2 linked regions of the Homo sapiens genome follow. The protein of the gene in region 1 purifies or fractionates together with the protein of each later gene. This does not show direct contact. Each region holds a gene or a part of one and is shown on either strand. Other genes may lie near its edges.

Region 1 (3,500 bases):
GCTGCAGGTTTAAGCTAAACATTCTATTATGTGGCTTTGAAGGTGTGAGTGTGAAAATGTGTGTGTGTGTGTTTAAACAAAGAAAACAGGCTTATTTATAGCAAAATTACTCATAAATTTCAATAATCTGGTGATCATTATGAATATCAGCAAATAAAATATAGTATGCACTATTTTCTTTAAATACTTATTTTTAGCCTTTTGTTATAAAACAAAACTGATGCAAAAAAACCACACAAAACAAACATATATTTCAATGCACTGTTATTAGGCAAACACCCTTACAACCACCACCTGGGTCAAGAATCAGAAGTTTGCCATCTACCCTAGACATGCCTCCCTGTGTGCTACACTCCAATCCCAACAGAAACCTTATAGCCCAAAAAGCAACCGTTATCTGACTTTCACAGTAATCACTTCCTATGTTTCTTACACTTTATCATCTAAGTGTCCACCCCTGACATTATAGTCTTGCTCATTTTTTTAAATTTGATACGTCTTTAAGTTCTTTTTTTTTTTTTGAGATGGAGTCTCCCTCTGTCACCCAGGCTGGAGTTCAGTGGCGCAATCTCGGCTCACTGCAACCTCCACCTCCCGGGTTCAAGCAATTCTTCTGCCGCACCCTCCCTAGTAGCTGAGATTACAAGCGCGTACTACCATGCCCGGCTAATTCTGTGTTTTTAGTAGAGATGGGGTTTCGCCATGTTGGCCAGGCTGGTCTCGAACTCCTGACCTCAGGTGATCTGCCCCCCTCCGCCTCCCAAAGTGCTGGGATTACAGGCGTGAGCCACCACATCCGGCTGTCTTTAAGTCATTTTAATCAACACATTGTCTCCATTCTTTTCCTTTGACCTTATCCCTTGAAGATCACAGTCTACTTGACCTGTTCAGTTTCTCACACTGTGGATTCTGAGGACTGTGTTCTCATGGTGCAATTCAATTCACACAACCGTCCTCAGAGGACAACTTTCTGCAAGTTGACAATTGGATCCAGAGGCTTCATCAGACTCAGACTTGATCCTCTGGCAAGACTAGAGGTGGGGCTATGGATGGTCTTTGATTAGAAAGCACAAAATGTCTAGTTGTCTCTTTCATGTCTAGTTAGCATTGATGGGTGCTCAATGCCTAGATGTATTAATTCCTGGAGAGTTGCAAAATAGTGATCTTCTAATTCTATCACTTCATTTTCATACCTTATAATGAAAAGCTTCCCCTCAGCTACTACTTTGTTACTCAGTGGTACAATTCACATGGGACAGGGAAGATAAATGCTTGCTTCATCCATTTACATAGTGTCTTCAAGATGACGAACTTGCTATCTCCCAGGCTAATCGAAGAGTTTTTTAAACATCATCACAAACATATTCATTTAAACATATTTGATCGTTTCAATGACTGCTCTCATGTAAGCTTCAGCAGTCATATCTTTGGCCAGTGAGACCCTCTTCAAATTGGCTCCTTCTCCTCAGTTGTCTCATAGCTTCTTTGCTCTCTGGTTTGACAGGATGTCCCAGACTCACCTTGCACATTTCCTACCCCAGTCCCAGAATCGACCATTTCACCAAGAAGCCTAGTTTAATGGGAAAAAGCACTTCAAGATCATGACATGGGTGATAATGAAGCACACTGCACAGTGCACACCATGGCAGCCATGGAGCACTAGGGGATGATGTGGCTGAAATTTCCCATCAAAAGGTAAGTCCCATCAGACCCACCAGATTATAAGGTCAAGGGGCTACAGCCACAGTCTATCATAAAGAGGAAGTTGTACATCGGGAATCATGCACAAGCAGGACCAGAGGGCACGCGTGAGCTGCACGAATAGGAAGCCAGACTCCCCCAGCACCCACCAGGCTGCACCAACTCCCTCCCTCACTTCGCACCTACGGCTGTGTGGCGATCCTGTAAAACCAGCTGGGGGCAGAGAGAAAGGCCGATTTGGGGGATGGGGGTGCGGGGGGTGGGGTGTTGAATGGTTGGTTTGTTATATGGGTGCAGGCTGGAAATGCAGGGCAGCTCCACTGCAGCCTTACTCTAGAGTGGCCAGGAAAGACAGGGGTAAGGGAAAAATCCTCCCAACTGGTTCCTTCAGAGAGGGAAGAATAGCCCAAGTTCAGGACAGCTGTGGACTCAAGGGCAGCAGCAAGTGGCTTGGCTGCCTAGTCAGAGGCCAGAAACACAAAGACTGGAAGAGGAAGAATTAGGAAATCTGGGGTAGAGAGACATAGGTGGACATGTGGGAGTGAGTATGCAGCATGAAGATCTCTTTACCACATGATAATGCCAGCCAGAGGGCATCTACCATGAAAGAGGCACTCATCCACAAAGCATGGAAAGGGGCCCAGCCAGGGGATGCCAGCCAGTGTCTTCACTGGCTACCCTAGTACCTGCGTAATGGATGCAGGAACGAACTGGCCACAATGGCAGAGATAGGTTACACATGGCCCAACAGCATGCACACCCGCTCACCAAGGTCCACCTAGCTACTGCCACCACCAAATGTCCAAATGGCCAGCAACAGAGACTGTCACCAAGTGCCTCACACAGCACCACTCCTTGAGAGGACCAACCCACCATAAGGTGGCAAAGGATTACACCGGGCCCCTTCCATGCTGAAAGGGCCAGTGATGTGTTCTTACACTCACATACATGTATTCTTGGCACGTGTTTGACTTTCCTGCCTTCAGGGTCTTGGCCAACTTCTGTCCCCTAAATAACATCCATCAGACCAAGCAACTCACTTTGCAGCAAGGAAAATGCAGCAGTGAGCCCACAGCTGGTTTCCACCTGTTTTATTTTACTGCACGTCACCAGGAACTGCCGTCCTGAAAAAGCACTGGAATAGCCCCAAGGCACAGCCACAGCACCAGTTCAGTGAACAAACTGTGCAGGTGGGTGCCGGACTCCAGGACACTGAATCAAACACTCCAAAGGTAGGGACACACCATGTTCCCCAAATGAATAATACACGTGTTTGGAAAGCAAAGGAGAGAAACAGGATTGACTTCATTTACTATCTCAGGGACCCATTGGGAGACTTTGTAGCTTTTGTTCCCACACTCTTGGCTCTGTAGAGTTAGAGGTCCTAGTCCCCAAAACAGTACACTTTTATCTGGGAATATAGCAAGACTCCATTGAGTTATAAGATACAGCTATTGCCTGGGCACTCTGGGATCACTGCTACAGGGACAAGTAGGCAAAAGGAGTTTGCCAGGTACAATCGTCCTATAAGCAGTGTAGGAGGATCTCTGTTGTGCCACACCCTTGCAAGCATTTGGTGTTACAAAGTATATAAATATTTGCCAATTGGATGGGCTTAAAATCATATTTCGAGCCAGGGGTGGTGGCTCATGCCTGTAATCCCGGCACTTTGGGAGGCCAAGGCAGGTGGATCACAAGGTCAAGACATCGAGGCCATCCTGGCCAATATGGTGAAACCCCGTCTCTCCTAAAAACACAAAAATTAGCTGGGCATGGTGGTACATGCCTGTAGTCCCAGC
Region 2 (4,389 bases), on another chromosome or scaffold:
GGGAGCTATTTCCCTGTAGTCCATCTCATTATCAAAGTTAAATTCCTGCTCCAGTTGACCAGAGCATGTGGACACAAAAGAGCAGCTTAGGTGGACTTGAGATACTACGTGTAAACGATTGCCATAAGATAGAGATCTCATTAAGACTCATTCTAAACACAGATGGCAGCTGTCTCTCTCTGGCTGGCTTGCTTGCTTTCTCCTCTAGTCCTGTTTGTCAAATTGGTTCCTTTAGGACTCCCAGTAAATGTTCTAATCTGTTTTAGTAACTTCCATGGCAACTTCTTCAGGTCAATTTCCCACACATATGCTGAACTTTCAGTCAAATATTCCAATTCTAAACATCTGTAGAGTGTCCTTATTTCATATTGAACATTGTATTTTTTGAAAAGGTACACTGATTTTAGAAGAGTAAATGGCTCTATATTCCTTGGTAGCTCATGTAATTAAATAGAAAAGAAACTGTAGCTGCAAGTGCTGTCAAATATGCATAACTGTCCAAGAAAACCCTGTCATGGCCTTTTGTTAAAATGAACAGGCACTTATATCATTCGTTTGGTTCATCAAAAATGCTTATCACAGGCCAGGCGCAGTGGCTCATGCCTGTAATCCCAGCATTTTGGGAGGTCAAGGCGGGAGGATCACCTACCAGCCTGGCCAACATGGCGAAATCCTGTCTCTACTAAAAATACAAAAGTTAGTCAGATATTGTGGTGCACAGCTATAATCCTAGCTACTAAGGAGGCTGAGGCAGGAGAATCACTTGAACCCAGGAGGCGGAGGTTGGAGTGAGCCACGATCACGCCACTGCACTCCAGCCTCGGCAACAGAGTAAGACTCCATCTCAAAAAAAAAAAAAAAAAAACAGACAGAAAAATAAAAGAAATGATTATCACGGTCTTGTCCAAATGAGGGCCACAAAAGCCATCACCTGTGTCTTTGGAATGGAGCTCATTTCAAATGAGCATATGATTATGCCAACAAAAGAATGGTGAGAAAGGAACTCTTGTACACCCATAAAGGAAAACATGCCCCAAGTGTTCTGGAAAATAATTCAACCATATATCTGAAACTCTTACCAAGAAAAGTTTTCTAACCTTTGACTCAATCATTTCACTGCTGGGAATCTATCTTTAAAAAATCATCAAAGGGCCAGGTGCGGTGGCTCATGCCTATAATCCCAACACTTTGGGAGGCTGAGGCGGGAGGATCGCCTGAAGTCAGGAGTTCAAGACCAGCCTGGCCAACATGGTAAAACCCTGTCTCTACTAAAAATACAAAAATTAGCCAGGTGTGGTGGTGTGCACCTGTAGTCCCAGCTACTCGGGAGGTTGAAATGGGAGAATTGGTTGAACCCAGGAGACAGAGGTTGCAGTGAGCCAAGATTACACCACTGCACTACAGCCTGAGTGACAGAGTGAGACTCCATCTCAAAAATAAATAAATAAATAAGTAAATAAAATGGCTCAAGGTTGAAGTGAGTGCTCTTTTGCCCGCCTTCTGCCTTCTGCCAGGGGAGGACACAGCATTAGTCCCTTCTGGTGGATGCAGCCGACATCAATCATGCTGCTGCCTTGGTCTTAGACTTCCCAGCCTCCAGAATTGCAAGAAATAAATTTCTGTTGTTTACAAATTATCCAGTCTGTAGTATTTTCTTACAGTAGCACAAAGGGACTAAGACTAAGACATGGCTTTATGAGTATATGATTATGCCAGCAAAAGAACGGTGAGAAAAGATTTCTTATACACCAATAGAGGAAAACATGCCCCAAGCATTCTGGAAAACAGTTTGGCCATATATCTGAAACTCTTACCCAGAAAGTTTTCTAGACTTTGAATTATTTCACTGCTGGGAATCTAATCTATCTTTCAAAAATCATCAAAGACGTAGGTTAATATTTATGTACAAGATGTTCACTGTAGAAAAAAAAAACAGAAATAACCTGTTTCCAGTAAATACATTGGGGTTTATTTATGACAGGTTATCCAGCTGCTGAAAGACAATGTATTTGTGGCATACTGCTAATGACAGATGAAACGTTTCTGATATAGGCAGGAAAAAATAGTAGGATTTTAAATACTGTATCCAGTCTTACCTAAATGCAATATGTAAAAAAATATGATACATATACACCAGAAACACATATGCTGGCAAATACGGTAGTTAAGAGCATGGGCTTTGGAAATAAACCGACCTGGTTCAAATTCCAGCTGTGCCGCTTTCCAGCTGTGTAACCTTGAGCAAGTTAGTTAACCTCTCTGTGCCTCAGAATGCTCACCTGGAAAATGGGGATAATAGTACCTACCTTACAGAGTTGAATGGACAGTAAATGAGACAATTCATGCAAATGCCTTGGCGCACAATGCCCAGCACATTGCAAGCACTCAATAACTACACGCCATTATTAGCATCATCAACACAGAGAACAAATGGGGAAGAAATGCACCAATATGCTAACAGGTATTATTTCTGGGTGGTAGAATTCCAGGACAGTTTAGCTTTCTCCTTTATAGTCTTCTCATTTTTCCAAATAATCTACAGTAAGTATTATGGAATCAGAAAGGGAAATCCATTATACAAAAAGAAAATCTGTTTAATTATTAGTATTTGCTACGTGCAACAGTGAATGCATACACGAAGGGAACACCGTGTGAGTCACAAAGTGAGCAATGCCTTTCACCCCATGTCTACTGGGAGCCTCAGTTCTCAGCAGCTGCCACCCTCCTGCAGAGGTCTCATTACTCACAGGCGCAGTTCCTTGGAAGCCATCCTCACCAGTGTTGGTCACCGGAAACTCGCCCTGCCAAATGTTGGCATAATGCTGGCCTTTGGGCTGCAGTTTGTTGCCCCAGGGGAAAAGTCTGTCAGAAGAGACACAGGCATCAGCCTGTCAAACAGGCACAGGTTTTGGATGAAAGTCAAGAGAAGGGATGCAATGAAAAAGAGAACATTGCTTGCTTGTTCTGAGTGAGCCAGTTAAAATATATATATAAATAAATAAAGCTTTTAATCAGGATTTATTTTCAATTTCCTTATAACTTCTCATGTCACGTCCACAACAGCCTCAGTCTTGCCCAGGTACTCAGGAGGCCTGAAATAAATCACAAAACTAAAAGAAGGACTTATAGAAAGCTGGGAGAGTAGACCTCATTTTGGACTTATATGGTAGTGTGATCAGGCACCACCACACCACACTTTTTTATAAAGCCTGGGCTATTTTAAGGAGCCTTTCCTAGAAGATGTGAACCCAACATGAGTTTTCTGTCTCATGGCTCTAGAAGCAGAGACATACCGCTGCTTCAGGAGATGCCTAAAATAAGAAAATGCTAAAAGCAGGGCAGTCTGCCAAGAAGTTCTAAGCAGTGATATGTAACTCAAGGGGGTTGAATTGCTAAGACTTGCTTTGGGGCTGGAGGGAGCCCACTTGGCCAGACACTTGGTTTAGGGGTGATAAAAGATTTGTGACCCATTCTCCAGTGTCTTCTAAGTAATTTCGTGGAAAAATAAGAAAAAGAATTATTGTCGTTATTAACTTTCTAACCAAAGTAAGTTCCATGGAGTTTTTTGTTGTTGTTTGTTTGTTCAAATGACCAACATATTGTCAGGCAAAATGAGATCCTCTAAATACCTATTATGCAGGCCTCCTCGACAGCTGTATTCCCACTCAGCTTCCGTGGGCAGCCGCTTCCCTGCCCAAGTGCAGTAGGCAACCGCATCATTCCAGGACACATGGAGAACTGGATGATCCGGCCTGGGGAAGAGCAAAAGTAGAATGAAAAGTGACACCAATCAGAACAAGAAGCAGGAGCTGGCTTCAGCAAAGCGCCCATAATCCCCCTCAGTTCAATCTGTGACACTGAGGTCATCCTGGTCCTTAAGTCAAACCCCAGCCATGCTACATCTGTCATGCTCCACCAACGGTTTCTGACAACCCAGGCTCCCAAATGGGTTACAGTTCCACTGGGAACTAGACTCAAAACATTTCTTCACTTTGTAGGCTCGGATTCCCACAGAATGTCATTGGTATGGCAGATGCGGAGATACTCCAGCTGCTAGGAGGGCCAGCAGGAGCTTTCAGCTCCTTTGGGGTTCAGCAGAGCTGACAGCCATCTCAGAGAAACCAGTGACTAACCAACCACAGCAGGGGCATACAGAGCCAGCCATTTCAGCCTACAGTGGCTCAACCTATGGGCCATATACACCCTAGAGGCCCCTGTGTTGGGTGGAGCTTGGTTGGACCTGCATTGTGGCTTTGACTTCTCCCTCTGCCCAGTCCTGCTCTGGCCCCTGCTTTCTACAGGTGTGGGGCCCTAACATTCTGCATCCTAAACTCTGTTTCAGCCTCTGTTTCCAGAGAACCCAACCTGTGACCCTTGGCTTTCAATTCT

Evidence for each region.
Region 2: the proteins of MSRA (region 1) and SUMF1 purify together in Homo sapiens (affinity purification with mass spectrometry; one large-scale study listed by BioGRID and IntAct). This does not show direct contact.

The regions. Positions count from the first base shown.
Region 1 is NC_000008.11:10,239,292-10,242,791, reverse strand, and holds part of MSRA (mitochondrial peptide methionine sulfoxide reductase isoform a precursor), read right to left. Parts: intron 1-3,500. UniProt on the Homo sapiens protein: Has an important function as a repair enzyme for proteins that have been inactivated by oxidation. Catalyzes the reversible oxidation-reduction of methionine sulfoxide in proteins to methionine.
Region 2 is NC_000003.12:4,414,381-4,418,769, forward strand, and holds part of SUMF1 (formylglycine-generating enzyme isoform 1 precursor), read right to left. Parts: intron 3,753-4,389; coding exon 3,630-3,752; intron 2,863-3,629; coding exon 2,748-2,862; intron 1-2,747.